Linked DNA regions of Homo sapiens: regions 2, 3 and 4 are each reported to be linked to region 1. Evidence: microRNA targets listed by miRTarBase, many of them from high-throughput screens and not tested one by one. Region 1 holds a microRNA gene; each other region holds the end of a gene's coding sequence.

What was found. Region 1 holds the annotated microRNA hsa-miR-6511b-5p (CUGCAGGCAGAAGUGGGGCUGACA, at 2,730-2,753, shown strand). A microRNA usually pairs through its seed, bases 2 to 8, with sites in the 3' UTR of a target mRNA and lowers its output. Matches are read on the target gene's strand: a 7mer-m8 pairs with bases 2 to 8, a 7mer-A1 pairs with bases 2 to 7 and ends in A, and an 8mer does both.
Region 2: the mRNA of SIX6 is a reported target of hsa-miR-6511b-5p. Seed matches in the 3' UTR shown: 7mer-A1 at 5,988-5,994.
Region 3: miRTarBase lists NFASC as a target of hsa-miR-6511b-5p. Seed matches in the 3' UTR shown: 7mer-A1 at 5,318-5,324, 7mer-A1 at 3,048-3,054 and 7mer-m8 at 2,025-2,031.
Region 4: miRTarBase lists TRIM73 as a target of hsa-miR-6511b-5p. Seed matches in the 3' UTR shown: 8mer at 980-987.

Annotation. Positions count from the first base shown.
Region 1 is chr16:16,321,860-16,328,973 of GRCh38, forward strand. It overlaps MIR6511A2 (microRNA 6511a-2), which reads left to right and starts at 2,729; the gene lies at 2,729-2,795. It also overlaps the pseudogene LOC131696449 and the pseudogene PKD1P1. RefSeq lists enhancers at 1,391-2,246, 2,316-3,118.
Region 2 is chr14:60,510,215-60,517,328 of GRCh38, reverse strand. SIX6 (SIX homeobox 6) reads right to left here. Exons shown (of 2, transcript NM_007374.3): 2 at 4,479-6,245. The coding sequence ends at 6,077. It also overlaps a transcript of C14orf39 not described here. Among named protein-coding and RNA genes, the nearest start is that of SIX6, 4.6 kb to the right of the region's middle. RefSeq lists a silencer at 2,078-2,247 and enhancers at 1,969-2,470, 5,544-6,315.
Region 3 is chr1:205,016,133-205,023,246 of GRCh38, reverse strand. It overlaps NFASC (neurofascin), which reads right to left. Exons shown (of 30, transcript NM_001005388.3): 30 at 425-6,939. The coding sequence ends at 6,708. Among named protein-coding and RNA genes, the nearest start is that of CNTN2, 24 kb to the left of the region's middle. RefSeq lists enhancers at 3,669-4,464, 4,465-5,262.
Region 4 is chr7:75,404,496-75,411,609 of GRCh38, forward strand. TRIM73 (tripartite motif containing 73) reads left to right here. Exons shown (of 5, transcript NM_198924.4): 4 at 344-574; 5 at 687-1,110. The coding sequence ends at 713. It overlaps LOC124901676 (a long non-coding RNA gene), which reads right to left and starts at 5,858. Exons shown (of 2, transcript XR_007060389.1): 1 at 5,688-5,858; 2 at 3,213-5,467. It also overlaps the pseudogene NSUN5P1. RefSeq lists an enhancer at 5,640-6,580.

The DNA.
Region 1 (7,114 bases):
GGGAGGGGCCATCAGAAATGGCGTGACCTGTGCAGCCTGTCCTGGGTTCTGTAAGCCAGTGTAGGTGCTGTCCCTGTGAGGCCCGTGTGCCTCCCCTCACTGCTCCGAGCTCTCTGGCTGAGGAGCTGGGGCAGGAGCCCCGGGAGGGTCTGAGAAGACTCAGAGAGAGGTGGACTCTTTGTAGCTGGTACTAGGTTTGCTTTACAGATGGGGAAACTGAGGCACAGAGAGGTTGAGGCATTAGTAGTACTACATGGCTGGCTGGAGAGCCGGACAGTCAGTGTCCCAGCCCGGGCTTGGCTCTCATGGCATGCAGAGCCCCGGGCACCTCCTCTCCTCTGTGCCCCGCGTGGGACTCTCCAGCCCGACGGGAGGTGTGTCCAGGAGGCGACAGGCTAAGGGCAGAGTCCTCCACAGAGCCCAGGCTGACACCAGTCCCCCCGCAGAGGTACAGCCCCGTGGTGGAGGCCGGCTCGGACATGGTCTTCCGGTGGACCATCAACGACAAGCAGTCCCTGACCTTCCAGAACGTGGTCTTCAATGTCATTTATCAGAGCGCGGCGGTCTTCAAGCTCTCAGTAGGTGGGCGGGAGTGGGGAGGGGAGGGGATGGGGCGGGGCGGGGGCGGGCTCCACCTTCACCTCTGCCTTCTGCTCTGCTTCATGCTGCCCGAGGACGCTGCCATGGCTGTGGTGAGTGGAGGGAGGGACGCCAAGCAGGGCAGGCCTCTCACCTGCCACCTGGGCCCACTGATGCCTGTCCCTGCAGCTGACGGCCTCCAACCACGTGAGCAACGTCACCGTGAACTACAACATCACCGTGGAGCGGATGAACAGGATGCAGGGCCTGCGGGTCTCTACAGTGCCAGCCGTGCTGTCCCCCAATGCCACGCTGGCACTGACGGCGGGCGTGCTGGTGGACTCGGCCGTGGAGGTGGCCTTCCTGTGAGTGACTCAGGGGCCGGTTTGGGGTGGGCACCAGGCTCTTGTCCGGGCACCAGGCTCTTGTCCCGGCTCCAGCCTCAGCCGAGGGACCCCACATCAGGGGGTTGCTTTTCTGAGCCTCGGTTTCCCTGTCTGTTGGGAGGTACTGGGTGCACAGGAGCCCTGAGGCTGCACGGGAGCCGGGAGAGGCCTCAGCACAGCCGGGTGGGCCCTGAATGGAGGCCCGGGGCGTGACTGCAGAGTGGAGCCTCGGCTGGGTCCCAAGCACCCCCTGCCCCGCCACCGCGCACCTGTGCCCCGCCACTGCGCACCCCTGTCCCGGTTCACTCACTGCCTCCCACCGCCCCGGCAGGTGGACCTTTGGGGATGGGGAGCAGGCCCTCCACCAGTTCCAGCCTCCGTACAACGAGTCCTTCCCGGTTCCAGACCCCTCGGTGGCCCAGGTGCTGGTGGAGCACAATGTCACCCACACCTACGCTGCCCCAGGTGAGGGATGAGGGGGTGAGGGGGCCACTGCCTTTCAGGCTCTGAGCACGGGGCCCCCCCAGTCCCCCAGTCAAGCTGCCCCGCTTCCTCCCCAACAGCCCTCACTGTGACCTCACCTGGGCTGATGGCTTAGGCCCCTACTGGGGTGAGGGAGGGGCCAGGCGTGGGAGGAGTGGACAGGGAAGCTGGGCCCCCTGAACTGCCCCCCACCGCGGCCTGGCTCTTGCTGCTCTGCTGCCCCGAGTGCAGCTGCACTTGGAGGCGGTGCCGTCCTCACCAGGCAGCCCTCAGTGCTGCTGCACCTGTGCTCCGTCCCGCACGTGGCTTGGGAGCCTGGGACCCTTAAGGCTGGGCCGCAGGTGCAGCCGTTCACCCCGGGCTCCTCAGGCGGGGGGCTTCTGCCGAGCGGGTGGGGAGCAGGTGGGGGTGCCGCGGCTGCCCCACTTGGGCCTGTCCCCACAGGTGAGTACGTCCTGACCTTGCTGGCATCTAATGCCTTCGAGAACCGGACGCAGCAGGTGCCTGTGAGCGTGTGCGCCTCCCTGCCCTCTGTGAGCGTGTGCGCCTCCCTGACTGGGGCCTGCTGGTACCCCAGAGTGGGTGTCTGTTCCCCAGTCCCTGCTTTCCTCAGCTGGCCTGATTGGGGGTCTGCCCAGAGGGGTCGTCTGAGGGGAGGGTGTGGGAGCAGGTTCCATCCCGGCTCAGCCTCCTGACCCAGGCCCTGGCTAAGGGCTGCAGGAGTCTGTGAGTCAGGCCTACGTGGCAACTGCGGTCCTCACACCCACACATACGTCTGTTCCCACACGCATCCCCCCAGGGGCCCTCAGTGAGCATTGCCTGCCTCCTGCCAGGGTCCAGCTGGGTCCAGTACACCAGAACGCACACCCCAGTGTCCTCTGCCCTGTGTATGCCCTTCCGCCGCCCAGGTTGGAAGGTGGCAAACCGGATGAGTATCCTGGGAGGGGGTGAGCTCACCGGCAGTGGCCAGGCCCCTGGGAAACCTGGAGTTTGGGAGCAGCATCCTCCACGGGTCCCCCAGACCTTCCAGCAGGCCAAATAGACCTGTGTTGGAGGTAACCCCACTCCCACGCCAGGTGCTGATCCGCAGTGGCCGGGTGCCCATTGTGTCCTTGGAGTGTGTGTCCTGCAAGGCACAGGCCGTGTACGAAGTGAGCCGCAGCTCCTACGTGTACCTGGAGGGCCGCTGCCTCAATTGCAGCAGCGGCTCCAAGCGAGGGGTGAGTGTTGAGCGGGGTGTGGGCGGGTTGGGGATGGGTCCCATGGCCGAGGGGACGGGGCCTGCAGGCAGAAGTGGGGCTGACAGGGCAGAGGGTTGCGCCCCCTCACCATCCCTTCTGCCTGCAGCGGTGGGCTGCACGTACGTTCAGCAACAAGACGCTGGTGCTGGATGAGACCACCACATCCACGGGCAGCGCAGGCATGTGACTGGTGCTGCGGCGGGGCGTGCTGCGGGACGGCGAGGGATACACCTTCACGCTGACGGTGCTGGGCCGCTCTGGCGAGGAGGAGGGCTGCGCCTCCATCCCCCTGTCCCCCAACCGCCCGCCGCTGGGGGGCTCTTGCTGCCTCTTCCCACTGGGCGCTGTGCACGCTCTCACCACCAAGGTGCACTTCGAATGCATGGGTGAGTGCAGGCCTGCGTAGGGGGAGCAGCGGGATCCCCCGACTCTGTGAGGTCACGGAGCCCTCCTGTGATGCCGTGGGGACCGTCCCTCAGGCTGGCATGACGCGGAGGATGCTGGCGCCCCGCTGGTGTACGCCCTGCTGCTGCAGCGCTGTCGCCAGGGCCACTGCGAGGAGTTCTGTGTCTACAAGGGCAGCCTCTCCGGCTACGGAGCCGTGCTGCCCCCGGGTTTCAGGCCACACTTCGAGGTGGGCCTGGCCGTGGTGGTGCAGGACCAGCTGGGAGCCGCTGTGGTCGCCCTCAACAGGTGAGCCAGGCCGTGGGAGGGCGCCCCCGAGACTGCCACCTGCTCACCACCCCCCTCTGCTCGTAGGTCTCTGGCCATCACCCTCCCAGAGCCCAACGGCAGCGCAATGGGGCTCACAGTCTGGCTGCACGGGCTCACCGCTAGTGTGCTCCCGGGGCTGCTGCGGCAGGCCGATCCCCAGCACGTCATCGAGTACTCGCTGGCCCTGGTCACTGTGCTGAACGAGGTGAGTGCAGCCTGGGAGGGGACCTCACATCTGCTGCATGCGTGCTGGGGACCAAGACCTGTTCCCCTGCCTGGAGCTTTGCGGAGGGCTCATCCCGGGCCCCAGAGATAAATCCCAGTGACCCTGAAGCAGCACCCCGACGTTCCGCTCCCAGCAGCCACACCCACCAGGCCCTCTCCGGCGTCTGCTTTCCACAATGCAGCCCCCGCCCAGGAGGGCCCATGTGCTTACCCTGTTTTGCCCATGAAGAAACAGCTCAGTGTTGCGGGTCAGTGCCCACATCACACAGCATCTAGCACGTAACTGCACCCCGGGAGTCGTGGGCATCTGCTGGCCTCCTGCCGGCCTCCTGCCCTGCTGACAGCTTGCTGTGCCCCCTGCCTGCCCCAGTACGAGCGGGCCCTGGACGTGGCGGCAGAGCCCAAGCACGAGCGGCAGCGCCGAGCCCAGATACGCAAGAACATCACGGAGACTCTGGTGTCCCTGAGGGTCCACACTGTGGATGACATCCAGCAGATCGCTGCTGCGCTGGCCCAGTGCATGGTAGGATGGCCCCACATGCTCTCCCCGCCCCGCATGCCTGCCAGGGTACTGGGTTCAGCCCCCCAGGGCAGACGGGCAGCTTGGCCGAGGAGCTGAGCCTCCAGCCTGGGCTCCTTCCTGCCATGGCGTTCCTCGGTCTCTGACCTGCTTCAGTAGCCTCAGCCATTCTGCTGTCCTGTGTGAACGCAGGGTGCCTCTCGGGGGACCCAGGGTGTAAAGAGGGGCCCAGATGTGGGGAGGGACTAAGAAGATGCTGCTCTGTGCCCTCCACTCTCCCCTCCCCTCCCCCTTCCCTCCCCTAGCCCCTCCCCTCCCCTTCCCTCCCCTAACCCCTCCCCTCCCCCTTCCCTCCCCTAGTCCCTCCCCCCTCCCCTAGCCCCTGCCTCCTCCCCCAGCCCCTCCCCTCCCCTAGCCCTTCCCCTCCTCCCCTCCCCTAGACCTTCCCCTCACCTCATCCCGCTGAGCCCCTCCACTCCTCCCCCAGCCCCTCCATCCCCTCACCCCTCCCCTCCTCCTTCCTCCCCTCCCTCTCCTCTCCCCCTTCTCTCTCCTTCCCTCTCCTCTCCCCCCTTTTCTCCACTTCCCTCTCCTCTCTCCCTTCTGCCCTCCTCCTTCTCTCATGTGAAGAGGTGCCTTGTGTGGTCAGTGGGCTGCATCACGTGTTCCCCAGGTGGAGGCCCTGGGTCATGCAGAGCCACAAAAAATGCTTAGTGAGGAGGCTGTGGGGGTCCAGTCAAGTGGGCTCTCCAGCTGCAGGGCTGGGGGTGGGAGCCAGGTGAGGACCCGTGTAGAGAGGAGGGCGTGTGCAAGGAGTGGGGCCAGGAGCGGGGCTGGACACTGCTGGCTCCACACAGGGGCCCAGCAGGGAGCTCGTATGCCGCTCGTGCCTGAAGCAGACGCTGCACAAGCTGGAGGCCATGATGCGCATCCTGCAGGCAGAGACCACCGCGGGCACCGTGACGCCCACCGCCATCGGAGACAGCATCCTCAACATCACAGGTGCCGCGGCCCGTGCCCCACGCCACCCGCCCGCCCCACGTGGCCCGTCCGCCCCATGCCGCCCTTTCCTCTGCCTCCCTCCTCCCCACAACCGCCTCGCCTTTGCCCCATCCCATCTTCGTCCCCCTCCCCTCCCCCCAATTCCCATCCTCATCCCCCTCCCCCAATTCCCATCCTCATCCCGCTCCCCCAATTCCCATCCTTATCCCCCTCCCCCAATTCCCATCCTTATCCCCCTCCCCCAATTCCCATTCTCCTCCCCCTCCCCCTTCCCTATTACCATCCCTTTTCTCCATCTCTCTCCCCTTTTCTCCATTTCCCCCCCGATCCTCCCCGTCCTTTTGTCCATTCCCCTCATCTTTCTTATCCCCCTTATCCTCCTTCCCCTCCCTTATCCCCCTTCCCCTCCCTTATCCCCCTTATCCCCTTCCCCTCCCTTTCACCCTGCTCCTCTTCTTCTCCCCTTTCTCTTTTCTCTACCCTTTTCCTTCCTTTTTCCTCCCTCTCCCCATCATCCCCCTCATCTTCGTCCTCATCCCCATCCCCTTCCCCCTCCCCCTCCACCACTCTCTCTCCAGCTTCCCTCTTCCTTCTGCCTGCACCTCGCTCTCTGCCCCCTCAGGTTCCCCCTTTCTCCCAGTCCCCACCCTCCGGCTCCCCCTTTTTGCCTGCCCCCACCCTCCCTCTGCCTCCCTGTCTCTGCACTGACCTCACGCCTGTCTGCAGGAGACCTCATCCACCTGGCCAGCTCAGACGTGCGGGCACCACAGCGCTCAGAGCTGGGAGCCGAGTCACCATCGCGGATGGTGGCGTCCCAGGCCTACAACCTGACCTCTGCCCTCACGCCCATCGTCACGCGCTCCCGCGTGCTCAACGAGGAGCCCCTGACGCTGGCGGGTGAGGAGATCGTGGCCCAGGGCAAGCGCTCGGACCCGCGGAGCCTGCTGTGCTATGGCGGCGCCCCAGGGCCTGGCTGCCACTTCTCCATCCCCTAGGCTTTCAGCAGGGCCCCGGCCAACCTCAGTGACGTGGTGCAGCTCATCTTTCTGGTGGACTCCAATCCCTTTCCCTTTGGCTATATCAGCAACTACACCGTCTCCACCAAGGTGGCCTCGATGGCGTTCCAGACACAGGCCGGCGCCCAGATCCCCATCGAGCGGCTGGCCTCAGAGCGCGCCTCACCGTGAAGGTGCCCAACAACTCGGACTGGGCTGCCCGGGGCCACCGCAGCTCCGCCAACTCCGTTGTGGTCCAGCCCCAGGCCTCCGTCGGTGCTGTGGTCACCCTGGACAGCAGCAACCCTGCGGCCGTGCTGCATCTGCAGCTCAACTATACGCTGCTGGACGGTGCATGCAGCGGTTGGGGCACACGCGGCCCCCTGGCCTTGTTCTTGGGGGGAAGGCGTTTCTCGTAGGGCTTCCATGGGTGTCTCTGGTGAAATTTGCTTTCTGTTTCATGGGCTGCTGGGGGCCTGGCCGGAGAGGAGCTGGGGGCCACGGAGAAGCAGGTGCCAGCTCTGGTGCAGAGGCTCCTATGGCCTTTCAGGCCCATGGCAGAGGGTGGGCTCAGGAGGGCCATCGTGGGTGTCCCCCGGGTGGTTGAGCTTCCCGGCAGGCGTGTGACCTGCGCGTTCTGCCCCAGGCCGCTACCTGTCTGAGGAACCCGAGCCCTACCTGGCAGTCTACCTGCACTCGGAGCCCCGGCCCAATGAGCGCAACTGCTCGGCTAGCAGGAGGATCCGCCCAGAGTCCCTCCAGGGTGCCGACCACCGGCCCTACACCTTCTTCATTTCCCCGGGGTGAGCTCTGCGGGCCGGCCTGGCAGGGCAGGGCAGGGCATCATGGGTCAGCATTGCCCGGGTTACGGGCCCCGTGGGGACGGCAGGCAGCGAGGGGACTGGACCGGGTATGGGCTCTGGGACTCCGACATCCAACCTGGCGGAGCCTGGGCTCACGTCCACTGCC
Region 2 (7,114 bases), not on the chromosome of region 1:
GAAAGGAAAGGGTTATTGTCTTAGTCCATTCCTGCTGCTATAAAGGAAATACTTTGGACTGGGTAATTTATACATTTCTCACAGTTCTGGAGGCCGGGAAGTGCAAGATCAAAGCCTGGTTAGGTTCTGTGTCTGGTAAAGGCTGGTTCTCTCTGCTTCTAAGATGGTGTCTTTTTCCTGCACCTTCACGTGGCAGAAGGACAGAAGGGCAAAAAGGAAATAATAGACTTCCTCAAGCCCTTTTATAAAAGCACTAATTCCATTCATGGGGCAGTGAATCACCTCCTAAAGGTCCCACTTCTTAATACTACTGCATTGGGGATTAAGTTTCAACATGAATTTTGGAGGGATATGAACATTAAACCATAGCAGTTATCTTTGAAGCAGAATAGAAATTCTTATGTTGTAGGGTTCAGAGAGTATAATACCTAGAATTTTCAAAATCCAAGAGGATTACTCTTACCTTTTTGGGAAAATGTGTTGTGTGAGAAGATAATTTTCATGGTATGAACCCAAAGTCATAGCACTCTAAAAAAACCGCATGCCTAGAGGGAGACAGCACTCTATGGAATCATCCCAGAGAACCCGACAAGTAGGTAACAGCCAGTAACTTACTGAGCTGGGAGGATTACAGTGAACTTTGGGTCCAGCCAATATAAGTCATCTCTTCTCTTCAAATGATTCCCGAGCTAGCAGAGGTCCCCCACTAACGTAAGAGCAGACAGATTTCAAGGAAGATGCATGAATTCATTCAGCTTTAAAACATTTATTGAGCACCTACTACTTGGGCTAGGTGCTGGGAATACAAAGATGGGTAAGAGTTGGTCCTTGCCTTTAAATAAAGAGCTTACATTCTAGCAAAGGCTGAAGGGGGAAGTCAGACAGACAAATAAATGAGCAAAAGTGTTAGAGCGCTAAAACAGACGTTTAGATAAGGTGCGGTGGGAGCATTAAAAAAGGTGGTGGCACATTATCTGTGTGGAGCTCACTGGCTCACGGAAAACTTAGTGGAGGTGGGGTAGGCTTTGTGGAATGACAGGGTAGCAGTTGAGGTAGGGGGCGGCGTTCCAGGCAGAGCAAACCACAGGGCAAGCGGAAACAGCATGAGCGGGCAGGGAGGCGTGAAACTGCTTGTTCAGCTCTGGGATCGCCCTCACACCCCTTTGTCTCCAGACAAGGAGGTGAAAACGGGAAGAAAACCAGTTCGTTCCCTCGCGGTAGGGCACGTCTGAAGAAGTTTGGGAATATAAATCCTAGCAAAGAGAGCTGCAAGGAAGGATCTAGCCAGAGGAGATTTGTAAGAGCTTACAATGGGAAATAAAGTTTCCCATTGTAAACCTTGCTTGGAAACCCCGCAAGGTTTCCGAAAGAAGGCGGCCCAGGTGGCCTGCCAGGGCTCAAATGTGCTATCGCGAACATGCGGTCCTTGAAGGACCCCGCTCCCTCTCCCCGCCTCGAAGGCTAACCCCGGCGGACCTGTCGGGCGCGGAAAGCCCCCTTTAGGTCCCGCTCCCTGGTCTCGGACCTCTCCCCTCTTCCCGCCCCTCTCGGCGACTCGCTCGGCGCGGCCTAGGACCGGTGGCGACAACTGCTGTTGCACCGGCAGGCCCAGGCCAGACACGCGTAGGCCCAGGCCCGACGCGGGCGGCAGCCTCTCGCGCAGGCCCAGACCGCGGCGCGCGCCGCATCCACGGGCTCGAGGCTCTGCAACCGCTGCGACTTCAGGCGCCCGAGGGTGGGCGGGCGCGCGCCTCCGCAGCTGCAGGGGCGCGCGCTTGTGGGCTCATTCTCCCACCTAGGTTTAAATTGAACCCCGTCTCGGTCCCCCGGTTTTGAGAGGTTTCTCTCCTCGAGCCGCTGAGTCACGCAGCCCAACAGTAGGAGTGGCTCGAGGCCTACACGTCCGCGAGTTCGCGGGGCGCTGGATGGAAAAGGTGGGTGCGCGAAAAGGGGGGCTCTCCTTCCTCGGGGACCCAGATCTGTGGCCTCCGTGGGGAGATCTGGGCCCCCGAGTAAGGACTCACCTTCCCGGGTACTGTGGGCCCAGTCTGGGCTTCTCTTTGGGAGCGGACCGTGGCTTGGGGCGCCTCCCCGAGGGGACCCACGCGCCCGCCGCTCCAGCCGCCATTTCCCAGCAGGCCTCCAGGGGGCCTCCCCGCCGCTGCCTTCCCGTCGGCGGCGCCGGGCACGGGGGTAGCCGCGCGGCGCAGGCAGGGACACGCCTCGGCGCCCGGGCCAGCGCGCGGACAATGACCCCTTCTCCCCTCGCCGCCGCCTCCTCCCCGACACCGCCCCCTCGCAGCTCACAGGCAAACCTATTAGCCATTCAGGCCGACAAAACCCCGCGGCCCCGCGCATTGTCCCGCCGAGCGCCCGGCCGCCGTCATTAGCCCTGATTACGCAGAGCCGCCTGACAGCCCCGCCGGCCGCTCCACAGACCCCCCATTCACGGCCGCCCCCGGGCTCCGCCTCACAAAAGGAGCGGAAATCGTCCGCGCTCTCGCGTCCCCGTTGAATAGAGCGAAAAGCTGCTTCTCCTCTCCTCCCGCCCCATTCACATTCTCTTTGGATACAATATTTTTTTCCTTTTTGTTAAAATTAGGGAGAGGGAACGAGGTCAAGGAAGACTTTGCTTGAGCTCTTTGCCTGTCATTTGTTTAATGTAAACAAAGAGCAAGCCCTCCCCACCCCCATCGTCTTCTCCCCTCCCTCCCAGATTTTTTATAAACAAACTGGCGAAGGGAAAGGAGGGAGTGACGGGTGGAAGTGGAGTGGGTCATTAAAGTGGAGGCGAGAGGAACTGCGGCATTTGGGGAGCAGGGGCCGTCGTTTTTTTTGGTGAAACTGGAGTGTGGTTGAAATGTTTATAAGCCGGAAAAGAGCCTGACCTGGGGCTTGGGGTAAAATCTTCACATTGGTCAGGTCCGTTGAAATATTTAATATAAAAATGCTCTTTCCACTCTGCTGGAGTAGCTGCTTTTTGGGAAATTGTGACAGAAGAATTGCAGGAAAAGAAAGGAAGGAAACCCATTATATAGAGATTTTGCCAAATTCAGAAACCTTCAGCCTTGCCATTACCTGGACTTTTTTTCCCCCCAAAACCCTGAAGACCAGAATGAAGCTGATATGGAAAAAGTCTTAAAAAGAAACCCTTTAAATGTCCTTGGGAAGATTGGAAAGATTAAAATAAAATAAATCTCTGTGAAGATCTGGACTAATTTCCAATATGTGGTCACCAAAGAATTGGTTATTCACAGAGGCAATTAGGTGCCATCACATTACAGATAAACATTTAAAAAAATCTTACAAGTAATGTGTCACCCCCTTAAGATTCTAAAGTGAAATTAAATAAATAAATATCCAGATTGTTGAAACAGAATAGCTACTTTAAAATGTAGGCAGCTTGTTAATTTAAGTAAATGGTAGCTGTAGTTTAAAGGCTTTTGTCAAAGCAGGAATTAAAAATGCTCCATCACTGTTTGGTCTTCTCTTTTTGTCCAAGCAATAAACTGTCACTTAAAAATTATTTTGTAAAGAGAAAGCTTAGTTTCTTAGTTACCCTATTTTCTTGACACTGCGGAATGGACATTTTCTTCTGCTTTTAGGTATCATTTGAAGGGGTGGGTGGAGTGGGATTTTTAGAATCTCAAATTCTTTTACATTATTCCACTAATTAGTTATTTCCCATCCCTCTAGGACTTGGAAGCATAAACTTAAGAGAAAATTTGCCAACAAACTTCTCCAAACACTGGTTCTGGACAGCCCCATAGCTAAGGGTGGGGTGGGGCTGGGGAACAAGAGTGGATATCCGTGGCTACTCCTTGTCAGATTAAGGACTAGGATGAGGCAAAGGAGGCACTTAGAGTGCAAAATTTAAGGAGGCACTCAATCTCATGTGCCTTGCACTTGCTGCACTTGCATAACCTTGACCGTGAGTCCCCTCCTGGCCTCACTCTAGTCCTCGCCAGCCCCTCGTTAGCATTCTAGGAACTACCTGGGGCTCTAGGAAACAAAATTAAGTACTGAGGAAGCTCTACAATGGGAGCCTTTCAGGACCCACAGGAGGGCTTTTGCTTGCTTTTGGAAAGAACACCAGTTTTATCACGAAAACTTACCCACTCCTTCCATGTAAAGCTCTTGTGCAAGAGAGTTTTGATTTTCAAGAATTCTCTGGATAAGGGCCACCATACACAAGGACAACATTTATAAAGCCCAAATGAGCCAAATCTATTCAAGCGATTTAGAAACCAAAAATCAACCCTTACTCTGTCCTGGGCTTCCATTGTCTATCTTGCCGTTTGGCTGCTTTTTGTCTTCCATGACTTCACTTATTTTTGTTTGGTTTGCACTTTGGCACTTCTGCCTAAAGAAGTTAGCAGGCTTCTGATCCAAAGAACATCTTCTAAGGACAGAAAGGCAAATGGAAAAGGCTGTAATTGGGGGATGGGGACAGTAAAGAGGGAAGTCAGCTCAAGTGATTTAAAGATCAATGTCAAATTTTATAATATGCAATCTGTTTCACTAGGAACAAAATTAGAGACTCTGGCTAGCATTTATTTTCTTAGTGCAAAGATGGTAGATGTTTTTGCGTTGTATATGCATGCATTTGTTCATGTATAGGTGCATACATGCATGTGCACGAGGAAAAATTAAATGCTAAAAATATTTTATGTTTTAATCGAGGCCATTACCAGGACAATGAGGCCCTTGATGACTTGTTCTATGCTTAATTCGGAGATTAGGTTTTTAAAATGCCAGTTATTTCTACAGCCTTGTTTTACCCTCAGTATGTGACATGATTACATCCTTTCCCCCATCTCAGTATCCCTCTTGTTAAAAACCATTCATTTGATTAAAACCAAATTCTGCAGCAAGAAGATGTTAGTCTAATTATTTACAACCTCTTCTATCATCTTTTGTCTTATTTTAATAATAGCTCAATCCTAAATGCAGTATATGCTCACTCTAGCATGATCATGGGTGCCTGCTGCTTTTGTATTGGAGGGGGCCTTGAAGGAGACAGAAAGCCTTTCTTGCTGCAGAGCCTGAGTCAGGATAGTTTTGCATTTTTAGAAAATAGGACTCACTTATTGAGTCCCATAGTTTGGCTTCCTAAATTGCTCCTGAAAGCTGTTGACACTTCATGTAAACGAGTGTCAAGTGGACAAGCCATAATTACCTGTGCTGGGGATGCGGGGACTTGCCTTAGAGAGGACGCTCACATGTTGCCAATTTCTAGCCTTAAATATATCACGTGTATGCATACATACATATGTTTGTATAGGTACATACATATGTTTGTATAGGTACATACATATATGCACATACGTGTAATTTGACGTGGGAGGTGGTTATAGACCTACCATAGGTTGTTTAAAACATATACCAGGAAGCACCAAAGAAGGCAAAAGATATATAGGTAAGACCTTCCGGAGACCATTTGCTCAAGGGTCCCTGCATGCCTGGTGAAGGGAATGATATTAATAATAATAAGAAGAAAAGGAATCTGAGAGCAGCTCCCTTAATTAAGAAGGTTGCCCACTAGGTTGTTTTATTGTTTGGCTTCTCCACACAGAACCCATCACCACCAGCCTGCATGTTTAGAAACAGCAAGTTCCCCAAGCTACAGAGAAACCTACCATGGCGGTCTCTTAAATAAGTAAATAAACAGCATATATATGTTTTGTTAAAAAAAAACTTTAAAGCGAAAGTTATACATATGTAACAGCGTCCTTTCGACGTGAAATACCCATGGGAGAATCTGGGCAGGCGCTCAGCTTGCAGTTCGGGTTCCGAAGGAGACTTTGCAGCAAAATCCTTAGGAAAAAGCAAAGCAAGAAGAACGTGGTGCTGGGTCAGGCCTCACCGCTGGTTCCCGTGGTCGCGGCCAAAGGGCGCCAGTGAAGCCAGGCCGGCCGCGGGGTGGGGCGGGAAACGGCAACCCGAGCCCGCGGGTCCCTGGTCACCTGGCTTCTGTGGCGCTGGATTTGCAGGTCTCTCATCTTCTTCCCCTCTTTCATTTTGTTTTTCTCGTTTTTACACTGGAATCTGCTTCTGAGCATCCTGGATGGGCAACTCAGATGTCGCACTCGCTGTCGCTGGACGTGATGGAGATGGCTGAAGTGGCCGCCTTGCTGGATAGACTGGCGGCCGGGCTGGTGGCGACGCCCAGCACCTCTGGCGTGCCGTCGCCCTCCGCCCGTAGTGCCCGCCCGGAACCCTGTGACAGGACCTGCTGCTGGAGTCTACGGGGAAGAAAGGGAACACGGGTCACAGCTCGTAACACAGCCGCCCGTCGCCCGCCCCCACCACCTCCTGCGTCCCTCCAGCCCGGCGGCTAGAGGTTCTTCCGAAGACCCCAGCAGTTAAGGCGAGGATTACTCGGCAAGGCGACAGAGGTCGGGCAGGAGTCCGCGGCCGCCCCTCCGCGGGTCCCTACTGTTGTGCCCCACCATGATTCGCGCCCTTTCTCAGCGCCGCAGCTCCCAGGTCTTTTATATACTGGGCTTGCAGTGTCCTCCCTGTTTGTTGTGCACTTTTGGGAGATTTACAGGACTGTCAGGAAATAAACGAAGTGTGGGTGACAAGGACAGATCGGTCCCAGGGACATGGGATACCATTTCTAACGGTGCGTCTGCCTGGGGCTTACGCCTGAGCAAGTGCTCCCGCGATCGCGTTGGATCGGGTCGGCCCGACCTAAAGGCAAAAAGGATTGTAAGGAGCATTTGGGCCTGGGGGATGAGGCCGGGCTCTTCCGCAAAATGTTTGGCTAATCGAGATCCACACTCCGGGAAACGAAAAGCCTCGGCCCACGGACTAGTTTGCTGTTTTGAGACAAGAGTGGCAGGCAGCGCATGGGAAGAGGAAAACTCGACTTCCCATTTCTCAAAAGTCCATTGAAAACTGTTTTCAAAGCATTAGGGAGGGATATACCTGGGCTTTGAAAATGATAATTAACATGAAACCGACACATTGCTAATAAGCCAGGCTTCGATTAATAGTAGGAGCCTGTGCCCAGGCTGACAAGAATTAGCTTTGGGTCTTGGGGTCCCTAACTGTTTGTAGGATTTTAATTTTTTATTTCTCTTCCCCTCTCCGTCCCAGTGAAGCCTTG
Region 3 (7,114 bases), not on the chromosome of region 1:
TGCCAGGCACAATGCTGGGCATACGCTGATGTTTGACCTAAGGGCAAGCGGTGCAGAAAGAGGAGGGGGCTAGGAGACGGAGCACCATGGCAAATTTCTCCCATTCTCCCGACTTCCCTAGCATGGCACTTTTTCAATGGTGGATGTGCACACGCATCACGTTGAATCAGAGGGTGTCTCCACGACTGTACACATTACACATTCCTATACCAGTCACACTATGTTTAAAACACAAATTGTGCAAGTGAGTCTTCGAGAATAACAACTTCTAGAGGGGGGATGGTATGGTAGAATTCTGGAAGAGTGTGCTGTCTGGCACCCATGAAAAACCCTTTGATCCACTTTTGCCATCAGCTCTTTGACACCCCTCTCCTACCTACCAACAGGAACAAATCAAGAAAATGAGCAAATCACATGGCAAGAGTCCATTTTGAACAACTTTTATTATACGTTTAGTGTTCTCTATACAAAAGAAATCAGTTTTTTTACAGTGATTCAAAAAAAATTCAGAATAATTTGGCCTTTTCATTGCTCATGCAGTCAGTTTATAAGTCCATGTATTAGACGGCCCTCCATGGCCCAGAAGTCTTCCCTGCTGAAGGTCGTGTGTGACACCCTCAGATACGCATCTGTCACTGACAAAGTTGGTTAATGCAAAATAACTCGCAAAAAAGGAAAGAACATGATGTGAGAGGGGTTAAAACAAGGTCTGGCATGGAGTTAAATGTTTAACCAATGGAAAAAAGATCAGACCAATTTGTGTGTGTGTGGATATGTAGGAAGGGATGGAGACGCTGGGAAAAAAAATTCCCCACGGGAAAGAACAAATTGGAATGGTGGGGGATATGGGTGTGTGGTGGGGGCGGGGCAGGAGGTCCTCCGGGGTCCAGCATGGGTCGGGAGTGGGAGCAGGACAGAAGGTGGCCACGTCACAGGCGACTGATGCTCAGCTCAAGGGGAGTGTGAAGAGGTTGGCAAAGAGCTGGGGAGCCGGGCAGAGGGACAACACTGACTGAGGACATTGCAGTTGGGAATCAGAAAAAAAGGGGCAGCTCAGGGGCATCTGATCTGCCTCATTTTTGAAAAAGAAACAGAGTAATGTACAAAATTCTGGATATCTTCTCCCAGAGTTTTGTGTTTATTGCTTCACTGAAGTCTTTACATCTGTTGAACTCCAGCCCAGCAAATCCCAGGGTGGCAGCTTGCATGGGCCCTGCTGCCTCTCTGCACCCTGTGGCCATGGGCAGAATGGACCGAGATGCCCTCACTTCTGAGGAATACAGCACACTGAAGGCCCGATGTGTTACAAAGCAAGAGACACCATTCTACGGGGTACGGTCTAGGGTTCACAGTAACAAACACCAATCAGCTATCCTATTCCACTGGCCCAGATCTGCCCTTAATTGCATGACTGGGTGAACCACACACAGGCTGATCACAGACAGACTGATCTTGGTCTCAGAAACAATCCTGTTTGTCTTTCATTTTGGGAGGCATGTGGGGGATGTGGGAGACGCAGTAAAGAGGTATGAGAGGGTGAACCAGAAGGACAGATCTTAATACCTCTGTTTCAAAGGAGGCAGCTGTGGTGAGATGAAAGAACACTGACTGGACAAGGAGTCAGAAGGCCCAAGTTCAAGCCCTAACCTTACCTTAGTTTACCAGCTATGTGATCTTGAGCAAAAATCCCTTCACTTCTGTGGATTTGCATATCCTTGTCTGTACGATAGATCATTTCAATGAGATCAGCTCTGGGATTCCTTCACATGCCGAAATCCGATTCTGTCCTAAGCTAGATGCCTTGTACCTATTTCCATTCTCCTCATTATGGAACACCCATTTAATACTAGTGTGCTGATAGGAGGAACAGCAGCTTCAGGTGAGGCCTGAGACACTGTTTGGTGGACGCTTGTGGCTCTCCTGGATGGTTCTCCTTTCTCTCTGATCCTTCTCTGAATGTGTCTCAGGAAGGCCCATTATTAGTAAGGAAGGGAAAGAAAGGACACTTCCCTGGGCTTGGGCTGTGCAGGCTGGGGACAGCCACAAAGTCTGGCTTGGACTCACATGGGGTAGCCCCTGTCTAGGTTAAGGAATGCTAGGAGATGGTCAAGGGAGGGCACTGGTCTGACTCTGCCCGGCTTGCCTATGCCTCCCAGGGCCTTGGTCTCCTCTTGACATATCAAGCTCTTTGTTTCATTGTTTTGAGGCCTCTCTATTTTTCCTTTTTAAAATCAGGGCCCTCCTCCATGCTACTCCTTGGCCACCACGCAGAGCTCAAGCAGGATCCTTTGCCAACTAACGGTGTAGATGCAACCGCAACCATGGGCTTTTGTGTGTTTGGCTGGGGCTGGCCGGAGTGGTGACTGGGCAGGAGGTCACTCTGCACCAAGGTGTCATGAGTGGGGAGCGGTGCCTTGTGCCGGCCTCCCAGGAACCTGCTGGCCACTGAGAAGGGATTCTCTGGCACTAGCCCCAGCCGACGGAAAGCCCGAGAGGCTTCCTCTCCTCAGAGAGTTAGCAAAGCAGCCTCACAAAGACAGACAAAAATGTGCTATGTCCCTGCTCCCTCCATCAAATGGGCTGTTTGTGATGCCCTAAGACTTGGCCCTGCTCCAGCACAGGGCGCCAGAAAGAGCCCGCTGCCCGTGCCATTGCTTGGGCAAAGTTTCCCACTCCTTCAGCTCAGATGCTCTCTCTAGGTGCTGCCAACAGGAATTACCTAAACAGGGCCCAACCCTGGTGGCCTTTCCCACTCCTCTAAGGTGCGTTCCTCATCCACACAGAGCCCTTTGCATCTTATCTCACGCAACTTGGATGTGGACTAACCCTCTCCAAGACAATGTTGGAATCTGGATCGCTATCCCTTGGAAGCACTGCTTGGCAACAGGGTTGTGGTCTGCTGTATGTATGTGAGCATGCGTGGGCACTGGGTGTGGCAGGGGAGCTTGTCCGTTAGCTGGGAAACCCACACATCCTCGGGTTTCCACCGTCTTCCCAAGGCTGTGGTCAGGGAAACTATGAATGCGCTATGTGGGCTCAGTTGCACCTTGCAGGGCAAGCAATGTTGGCACTGGCTGATTTTCAGACCTGTGGTCACCTCTCCCGACTTCAGGGCTTGCCAGGGGCAGGGGCAATGGGGTGGACCAGATGTCTCCAACCTCTCAGAGCACAAAGGAGGGTGCTGGTTTGGCTTTCCTGTTAGCTTAAATTCAACCATCTCCTCAAAAGCAAGGCAGGAAAAGATGAGTCCCATTCACCATCACCCAGGCAAGGTGGGAGGCAGCTGTCCCCTGACCGATGGCAGTGTACTTCCCGAACCCTGGCCTCGACAATCCTTCAGGGGAGCCCGTGCCTCTCTGTAGAAAGAGGTATTCAAGGAGGAACTGAATGGGAGACAGAGGCATAAAAATACAGACAGGTTAAGGAGCTTGCCCCAAGAGGCAGAGCAAAGAGGCTCAGGAAGCAGGACTGTTTCTCAAGCCACACCGTGGTTCTTGACTGCTCTGTCCCGCCCAGCCTTGGTGACCAGATGGACCAAGCTCTCCCTCAGAATCCCTCTCTTCAAGCTCGCAGCCATCAGTGGCTTAAGCGGTAGAGGGAAGAATGCTCCCAGCTCAATGGCCACTGTGTCCTAGCACTTGATTTTAGGACTGTCAGCCCCATGAGGGCAGGGACCACATCTAACTCACGCGCCATGGTATCCACAGCTCAGGCCTTAGTTCAGACTGGATTTCAGATTATTTGCTGAATGAATGAATGAATGAATGAATGGACAAATGAGAGCACAGGAAACCACAGCTCTTAGGGCTGAGCATATAGGTGGGATTGCAGCCTAGTCAAAGGAACTTCTAGAGTTACTGTAAGATGCCCAGCACTTTCCTCCCAGCCAGACAGACTGGAGCGCCGATGGCATGGTGCTGTCCTGGCTTCACTGTTGGTATGTCTTGGGGTAGTTGCTTGGGAGACCCAGCTGGCAGGCAGTACTGGGCAATTCCACTTTCCTGCTGAGCTGGAGTGGACTCTGACATGGGCTCCATGGAAAATGCACCCTCCTCTTCCCCAAAGGGGCTGCCTCCTGAATCCTGCAATCCCCACGCCTCAGCGTTTGATCTCTCTGACCACCTGCCTTCCTTGCTTGGGGAAAACTTAATTCTTCAGCCTCAGATTTGCTTCTGCTCAGAGGGGTGTGATGGCGTGGTGATGGGGGGCAGCTCTCAGCACCCACAGAACAGCAGCCTGAGAGAGGGCTAACAGCATTTTCTTCATACACAAAGGACAGTACAGAGCCTGGCAGGACACTGGAACGAGGTGCAGAGGCAGGCTGCGGGCTTACTTCTCCCCAAGACCCTTACGAGAGAAGCAGCCCTTCCCAGTCACCAGGTGGTGTGGCAGACTTGCTCATCGTCCCTTCCTGCCCTAAGGGCCTGCTTTCGGTGCAATGGGTACGCTGGCATGTACGGTGCAGTATGGAATGAGTGTCTGAGAAACTGACTACTCTGCTCAGATCCAAAGCGTTTTCTGGAAAGGCCAGTCCTTTAATTCAGCTCACAGGCACACTTCCCTGACATTCCCTTCAGGGACAGTGGGCCTAGTATCCAAGCAGGTGTTGGAGGAAATCCAGGGGAGGGGCCCTCCAAGCTCACACCCCACCCCCTGCTGTTTACCCTGTCCCCTTGCACTGTGATAAGCTGCCCCTCAGGCGTCCAGGCAGCAGCCCTAGCTGAGGCTTGGCCCAAATGACCATTACACACTCTCAGGTTCAAACAACCTTATTGGCTCAGTTCTGGGCTATGGTTTCTTACCAGCAGAGAGTGTGTGTCTATGGGCTTGACCTTCAACTGAATGATTATTAATGATGCAAGCATTGCTAATACCTTTGCGGCTTAAACATGTGGCAAATGTTGCTTTAATAAAGTCACGGAAGGACAGAGCCCTGGTCTGGCCCAGGCCCCCTGGCTGGCAGCCGGAGAGGCTCAAATCGGAGGCTGTGCCCATGGCAGCTGATCCATTCCTGGGGATCAGCTTCACCCTCCTGAAACTGACCTCAGCTGCAGAAACAGCTAAAGGGTTCCTCTTAGACTCAAGATCTCCCCCTCTCCTTCTCTGTCTCTGAGGCTAGGTACCTTTGGTTTCAAAAATGCATTAGGTGGGGAGGATGAAGGCAGCACCTTCGGTCTGAGAACTGCAGGTCTGCGAGTGTCTCCATTTGGGGTGACTGGTGAGGACGTGTGTTGAGTGGCCACTTCTGGTCCTGCCGGAACACTTGCATAGGCTGCCCTGCTCTCCTGGAGATAGACGTTGCTGGAGGCTTCAAGGCTTGCAGGGGGGGAGCTGGGAACCTGGGAACTCCAGGGACAGATCAGCGCTGCATAAGGCATACAAAGAGCATTGAGTCCTCCCTAGGTGGGGGCATCACAACACTGAGTACGGTGCCACCTCAGGGTCCCCTGATATGTATACACCCCAATGAAAGGGCAGACCTGCTCAGTCTTGGGGCAAGTCCCCATCCACACACCATGTCAAACAAGAGCCTCAGTGTCCTACAGAATTGGCTGAGAAGATGATATCTGCTAGAGATGGAAGGGGAGCAGTGCCTTATGCCCCAAACACACCAGCAAAGCTTTTGCATCACAGGGTTCCATCTCCTCGAGGGTGGCAGCATGGGCCCTGGCCACGTGGACAGGTGCCCTCTACTCTGGACAGGGTGGGTGTGGCCCTCTATCTACATCCTGGGTTTCACCAGTGAGGAGGCATGAAGTCCAAACCCAGCCTTTTTCTTCTCTCTAGAAGTGAGCACAGTGCCCCCAAGACCAGACACCTGATTTTCTTCTGCTGGAGGTACACAGTCACTGGCGTTGAAGTCCTTTCTATCAGTGCCCACTCCTGTTCCTCAAACGTCTTCAGAGTCAATGCAGCTCACATCTTAGATATTCCAGAGAAAAGGGCAGGGGAGGAATGAGGAGCAAGAGGTAAACACACCTCCCAACCAAACCAGAGAGCAGCAAGGAGGCCTGCGCACCTTCTCCCTGCCAAAAATACTGTCATTTTCCAGAAAGGAGCCAAGCCCAGCTCAGCAACTGACAAGGCCGAGGCAGAGGGGCTGGGGGCCAGGGGAGGCATATGGCGAGAAAGGCATCCTTTGGAAATGCATTGGCCCAGAGGTGGTTTGAATATTACAGCCTGTCTACGTGTTCTGGTATGGATTCAATCCTTTTTGCCTATCTTTGCAAAAAGGATTCTCCTGGGGGAGAATCCACTTATTCTTTCTTTTCCAGGGACTCTTTTTCAAAAGGAAAAGAAAACAGAGACATTGGGTCTGGAGGGGAAGATGCACAAAGCGAAATTAAGACAATGAGAAGTCCCGTAACCAACAGAAAAGGTGAGCGTGTGCCGAGGCCAAGGGCGGACAGTGTGGTGGAACGCTCGGGGTGGCTGCGAGACCGGGCAAGGGGCCAGGCTCCCTCCAGCTGAGCTCAGCCACGGCTCCAGCTCTCCCACACTGGTGGCACCCGGGGCTGAAGGGGGGTCATTGGGAGGGGGCTTGTGGGTGGCTTGGTGGCTACTGGTCCTCACAGCTTGGCAGACCCCCATATCGTACCCTTGTTACTGAAGGTGGTGGTGGCTTCGTGGTAGGTCTGCAGTGGTTTTGTCTCCCCTTCTCCCCTCCTCCCACTTGCAAAGTGGTGGCTGTGCCTGGGTGGGCTCCGTTAGGCCAGAGAGTAGATAGCATTGACAGGTGACGTGGCCTCTGAGCTTTCGTTGCCCTCTGTTTCCTCCTTGTCCTTTTTGACCGTGTACTGGCCGATGAAGGAGCCGTCTTCATTGAACTGACCCTCGCCACCCTCGCCATAGTCCACCAGGCTGTCGTCACTCTCCTGCTGCTTGATGGTGCCGTCCAGAGATGTCTGACTGCCCTGCAGGGGCTTGTTGTCCTCATCACTGGCCAAAGAGAGACAGAGAATCTCAGGTGGGGTGAGATGGGGCAGCTGGCCTCCTGCCAGCACATGCCCTACACAGCTCAGAGAGGATGGGATCCAGGAGACCGCCCAGTCCAGCCCCCGCTTCACCCTCCCCTGTCCAGCCTGCTTTGCAGAAGGGAAATGGAGGCCTAGAG
Region 4 (7,114 bases), not on the chromosome of region 1:
GCTGGGAGGTCAAGGCTACAGTGAGCTATGATCGTGCCACTGCGCTCCAGCCTGGGCAACAGAGTGAGACCCTGTCTGTTAAAAAAAAAATTAAAAATTAAAACAGGCCAAAGCAGAGCCTCTCCATTTGAAATGGGAGCTGGGGCCACCCTCCCCACGGCCACCGCCAGGGCTCCCCATGCATGGGGTGAACTCCCTGCCCGGCGCCAGGCCATGCAGCCTCCCCTGAGACTCAGGTCCCAGGACCAACCCGGTCAGGAAGGCCCTGGGGACACCGAGGCCAGCCAGACAGAGCCTGGCAGCTCGGCTGTGACTCTGCAGTGAGCAGCCCTCCCTGTCCCAGAATGAGTCGGATGTCTTCAGCTGGGTGATCCGCCGCGAGTTCCAGGAGCTGCGCCACCCGGTGGACGAGGAGAAGGCCCGCTGCCTGGAGGGGATAGGGGGTCACACCCGTGGCCTGGTGGCCTCCCTGGACATGCAGCTGGAGCAGGCCCAGGGAACCCGGGAGCGGCTGGCCCAAGCCGAGTGTGTGCTGGAACAGTTCGGCAATGAGGACCACCATGAGTTCATCTGGGTGAGTGGACAGGGAGGCGTCCCATCCCCATACCCGCCAGGGCCTTCCCCTTCCCAACAGTGCCCTGGCTTCCCACCTTCTAGCCTTAACCTCCCTCTCTCTTGCCTTCCAGAAGTTCCACTCCATGGCCTCCAGGTAATAACCTTGGAGAGAGCTCAGCCAGGGTCTGGTGGCTGCGGGCACGGGCATCTCAGCTCCACTGGTTCCTCCATTCAGCTTAACCAGCGCCTCCCAAGCAGCTGCCTATAGCTGGCTCTATAACTGAGCCTGGGGAAGATAGAGGAAAGTCACGTCCCTGCCTTCAAGGGTCTCGCAGACAGGTGGGGAGGCAGATGGTGAACTGTGGGTACCTAGAACAGCAGAAGTTCACTCAAGCTACAGAAATACTAGAGGAGGGTAGCTCATGCCTGCAATCCCAGTACTTTGGGAGGCCAAGGCAGGAGTATTGCTGGAGGCCGGGAGTTCGAGACCAGCCTGGCCAATGTAGTAACACCCCCGTCTCTACAAAAAATACAAAAATAAAAAAATTAGTTGGGCATGGTGGCATGCGCCTATAGTCCCTGCTACTCATAAGGCTGAGATGGGAGGATTGCTTGAGCCCAAAGTTTGATGCTGCAGTGAGTCATGATCATGCTACTGCATGATCCAGCCTGGGTGACAGAGCGAGACCCTGTCTCAGAAAACAAAACACTAGAGGAGGAGCAGGTGTCTGGGAGGCCTGGCAGAGGGGCACACGCCTGATGGCTGAGAAGGGCCCAGGACCCGAGTTTGCCAGGCAAGCCGAGGGAACAGTCCTGTAAAAGGGGGAGTGGCGTGCGGACTCTGGTTATGAGAAGTTCAGGGTGGCTGGATGTAAGGCAGGATATCAGGAGGAGTGGGAGCTGGGAGAGGTGGGAAATGGCCAGAAGCAACATCCAGGAGCACCAGGCATCCCTTGCTTACCGTCCTCACCCTTGCGCAGCAGGCAGTATCAGCCCTGCCTGAAACTTGCTCTGCAGATTGTGGGAAGAGAGCGGATCCATGTTCTAGACCCAACAAACGAACACGTGCAGTTCCCAAGCCTTCCTCACTCCCTGTTTATGGGAGACTCCTTGTTTCTCACATTTCTTTTAGTCTTAGAGACAATTTGGTCAGGAGACATGGGTTTAAATGAAGGCACAGAGCCTGGGCACAGCAGCTTACACCTGTAATCCCAGCACTTTGGAAGGCCAAGGCAGAAGGATGACTTGAGGTCAGGAGATCAAGACCAGCCTGGCCAACATGGTGAAACCCTGTCTCTATGAAAAATACAAAAATTAGCTGGGTGTGGTGGCACATACCTGTAATCCCAGCTACTCGGGAGGCTGAGGCACGAGAATCTCTTGAACCTGGGAGGTGGAGGTTGCAGTGAGCTGAGATTGCTCCACTGCACTCCAGCCTGGGTGACAGAGCAAGACTCCATCTCAAAAAAAAAAGAAAAGAAAACAAGAAAAAAAAAAGTCCGGGCATGGTGGCTCATGCCTATAATCCCAGCACTTTATGCTCAAGTCTGCTTTTTTTTTTTTTTTTTTTGAGATGGAGTCTCGCTCTGTCACCCAGGCTGGAGTGCAGTGGCACGATCTCAGCTCACTGCAACCTACACCTCTCAGGTTCAAGTGATCTCCTGCCTCAGCCTCCCGAGTAGCTGGGATTACAGGTGTGCACCCCATGCTCAGCTAATTTTTTTATTTTTAATATAGATGGGGTTTTGCCATGTTGACCATGCTGGTCTCGAACTCCTGACCTCAAATGATTCGCCTGCCTCGGCCTCCCAAAGTGCTGGGATTACAGGCGTGAGCCACCGTGCCCAGCCTTGAGTCTTTATTTTTAGAGACAGGATCTTGCTCTGTCACCCAGGCTGGAGCGCAGTGGTGCAACTGTAGCTCACTGCAGCCTTGACCTCCCAGGCTCAAGTGATCCTCCTGCCTCAGCCTCCTGAGTAGCTGGGACGACAAGTGTCTGCTACCATACCCAGCTAATATTTAAATTTTTAGTAGAGATGGGATCTTGCTATGTTACCCAGGCTGGTCTGGGCCTCAAGCAATCCTCCCACCTTGGCCTCCCAAAGTGTTGGGATTATAGGTGTGAGCCACTGTGCTTAGCCTCCCATAACCCTTTGATTCACGATACTCATAGGCTAAGTGGGTCCTGGAAGCTCCGGGGTAGCCTTCTAACCAAGATGCTGGCTCTGGCCACTGGAAGTCAAACTGGGTGCACAGACCAGTGAGAGGGCATGAGGGAGCCTAGCAGGGGTGAACAGCAACCCTCAGCCTCCCCACAGCCCTGCCTCTCCTCCTGCCTCTCCTCGGTCTCCTTTGAGGATTCAGCCTCTCGTCCTCACCACTTATGGTCTGAGGGCCTCCAGGCTCCTCTTCTGGCTGTCTACCCCTCCACACCCATAGCTCCAGTCATCACTTCCACAGGGATGACTCAGAAGTTCCCTCTCCGGGAGACCCGTCCCTTACAGGCCACATCCAGTAGCGCTCCAGCCATTCAGCAGCTCCGCCTGGACGTCAAGGGCATGTCCAAAACCGCGCTCATGATCTTCCTACTCCCCCATCCCTGAGATTTATCCTGTGGCTGTGGTGTCCTGTGGCTACTGTAACAAATGACCACAAACTTGGTGGCTTCAAACAAATTTAATCTCTCATGGTTCTGAAGGCCAGATGTCCAAGATCACGATGACGGCAAGGCCGCGCTCCCTCTGGAGACTGTCGGGGAAAACCTGCCCCTTTCCTCTTCAGCTTCAGGTGGTGGCTGCCATGCCCTGGTGTTTCCTGGCCTGTGACCGCATCATTCCAATCTCTGCCTCCATCTTCACGTGGCCTTTTCTGTATGTGCCGGTCTAATCTTCCTCTGCTTCTCTCTTATTTTTTGTTTTTTGAGACAGAGTCTCACTCTGTTGCCCAGGCTGGAGTGCAGTGGTGTGATCTCGGCTCACTGCAACCGCCACTTCCCAGGTTCAAGCAATTCCCTTAACTTAGCCCCCTGAGTAGCTGGGATTACAGGCGTGCACTCAGCAAATTTTTGTGTTTTTAGTAGAGACGTGGTTTCACCATGTTGGCTAGGCTGGTTGTGAACTCCTGGGCTCAAGGGATCCACCAGCCTCAGTCTCCCAAAGTGCTGGGATTACAGGTGTGACCCACTGCGCTTCTCCCTATAAGAGAGGCCTTCCTCTGCCTCTCTCTTATAGGGATACTTGTGATGCCATGCAGGACCTGCCCAGATAATCCAGGATAACCTTCTCTCCAAATCCTTCCCCTGATCACTCCTACAGATCTCTTCCATAGAAGGTGACATTTCCAGGCTCTAGGAATTAGGACCTGCTCTCTCTGGGTGGCCGTTGTTCACTCCACCACCCCAGGTTTCCCCATCCTACCAAAAGACACAGCAGCATTGTGTCAACTGCCCAAACTGAAAACCTATGAGTTATTCTCGACCTGACCTTTTTCCTGAGCAAGTTCTGTGGATTTAACTTAGCGGTCACACTGCCAACTTCAACCGAACTCCACTGCCACCAACTCAGTCCAGGCCACCAGTTCTTGTTTAGGTGACTGCCATGACCCCCATTGGTCTCTCCCTGCCTCAACTCTGTCCCCTCCATCCTATATCCCCACACTGTAACCAGACTGATTATTTATTTATTTATTTATTTTTTGGGGAAAGAAGCTTGCTCTATCCCCCAGGCTGGAGTGCGGTGGCACAATCTCAGCTTACTGCAACCTCCGCCTCCCAGGTTCAAACGATTCTGCCTCAGCCTCCCAAGTAGCTGAGATTACAGGTGTCTGCCACAATGCCTGGCTAATCTTTGTATTTTTAGTAGAGACGGGTTTTGTCATGTTGGCCAGGCTGGTCTCAAACTCCTGACCTCAAGTGATCCACCTGCCTTGGCCTCCCAAAGTGCTAGGATTACAGGTGTGAGCCACCGCACCTGGCCAGACTGATCTTTAAAGAAGTATACATGAACACAGCACTCCATGACTTAAAACCCTTAAGAGGACTACCATTTATCTCAAGATAAAAGAACAAAATCCTCGCTGGGCACAGTGGTTCATGCCTGTAATCACTGCTTTGGGAAGCCGAGGTGGGAAGATCACTTTAGGCCAGGAGTTCGAGACCATCCATGGGCAACATGGTGAGACCGCATTTCTACAAAAGATAAAATTAGCTGGGTGTGGTGGTGCACGTCTGTAGTCCCAGCTACTTGGAGGGTGAAGTGGGAGGATCACTTGAGCCCTGGAGTTCGAGGCTGCAGTGAGCTATGACGGTGCCACTGCACTCCAGCCTGGGTGACGGAGTGGGACCTCATCAAAAGCAAAAACAAAACCGTTATTGTGGCTTTGAGGCCTGGATCATAACTACATCATTTAATTTGGCCAAACCGGCCCATTTCAGGTACCCAAATACCCCACGTGCTTTCTTGCTTGGCTCTGGGACTAATGTGGTTACTGGTGCAGGGTGAGTGGCAGGTATCATGAACCACATTGTGGACCTGGAGTTGCTAGGACCTTTTCTGCCATTACACAGAAAAATCCTCCCTGAGAACACAGCCATTGGAGGACACATGGCAGAGGAAGATAAGACAATAAACAGAGACACATAATTATGGCCAGCGTGGGGGCTCACGCCTGTAATCCCAAAACTTTGGGAGGCCGAGGTGGGCAGATCACCTAAGGTCAGGAGTTCGAGGCCAGCCTGGCCAACATGGTGAAACCCCGTCTCTACTAAAAATACAAAAATTAGCCGGGCGTGGTGGCACGGGCCTGTAGTCCTAGCTACTCCAGAGGGTGAGGCAGGAGAATTGCTTGAACCTGGGAGGCGGAGGTTGCAGTGAGCCAAGATCGCGACACTGCGCGACAGAGTGAGTCTTTTTGTCTGAAAAAAAAAAATATATATATATATATACACACACATACACACATATATATATACACACACATATATATATGAAATGACCAATACACATGTGAACATATTCAACGCAATAACTGCGGTTAAACAGCAGTAAAATCCCATTATTTATCCATCAGATTGACAAAGACTGAAGAACTGGAGAAGAAGTGGCGAAACGGGCTCGCAGCGTCGCATTCCCTACCCCAGCAGGTGCGCCCGCAGCGTCGCACTCCCTAGCCCGGCAGGTGCGCGATCACACACACACCCTGCAGGGGGACTTCGACCGGCACTTCCGGTCCCGGAAGGGCATGCCCTTGGACCCCGGAAGTCCGGGCGGGGGCAGAGCCGGGTGCGCTTTGCGACAGAGCCGTAAAGGCGCGCGGGAACATGGGGCTGTACGCTGCGGTGGCAGGCGTGCTGGCCGGCGTGGAGAGCCGCCAGGGCTCTATCAAGGGGCTGGTGTACTCCAGCAACTTCCAGGTAGCGGGCCCGGGCGCCACAAGTAGGGGTGGGGGGTGAGGAACCCGGGGTGGGGTGGGACGGGCCCGGATGGGGTCGGGAGGTGGGGCCCGGCGAGGAGGGCCGGGGGAGCCCCCGACCCAGCTTGTCTCCCTCGGCCACACAGAACGTGAAGCAGCTGTACGCGCTGGTGTGCGAAACGCAGCGCTACTCCGCCGTGCTGGATGCCGTGATCTCCAGCGCCGGCCTCCTCAGTGCGAAGAAGCTGCAGCCGCACCTGGCCAAGGGTAGGGGCGGGGCGGGGAAGTGAACCCCGACGGTCAGCGCTTTGTCATCTGGTTTCAGCCCCGCTGCCGTGCACGGCGGGACTGGAGCAAGTCGCTCACCTGAAATGAGTATGAGCAGACCTTCCCTGGGTTACGAATTGAGATGGGATGAAAATGCTTTAACTTCGAGTGTTTTGAAGGATTAAATAACCGAAGTACAAAGTAGTAGTAGCGGAGACAGTAAGGAAGTCGGGCGTGGCGGCGCGCACCTGTGGTCCCAGCTACTCGGAAGGCTGAGGGGGGAGGATCACTTGAGCCCAGGAGTTCGAAGCTGCAGTGAGCTGTGATGTGGCCACTGCACTTCAGCCTGGGCGACAGATCTAGACCCCATTCTAAAAAAAAACAAAAACCCCAAACCCACACCCACGAAAGGGTAATGTTGGCAAGAAGCTGGGTGCAGAGGTCTACTGGTGAACATCTGTGGGGAAAGGGTCTAAGGCTGGGAAGCGAGACGCCAGGTTCCGATCCTGTTGTGTAGTTAATTTCTGGTGTGGTCTTGAGTAAGGTACCCCACCTTTATCTGTAACCATCTAGTCAGGTGATCTCTTTAGCCATTCCAGTGCCCGGGCTCTATTAGAGTTAGTTCTAAGGCATTCATACTTCTTGCTTAGGGCGTTTCTGTCTTTGATCCCTCATCCCCAGGTGCTAGTGTATGAGTTGTTGGGAAAGGGCTTTCGAGGGGGTGGGGGCCAATGGAAGGCTCTGTTGGGACGGCACCAGGCGAGGTGTTGAGTTGGCTCGGCTCAAGGTTCTTCGGGGTGTGAGCTGGCATGAGGACCTGTTGGAAGTGGGATCCAGGCCTGGTCCAGGTGAGCTGGAAGGAGTTGAGGGGCGGGGGAGGTGG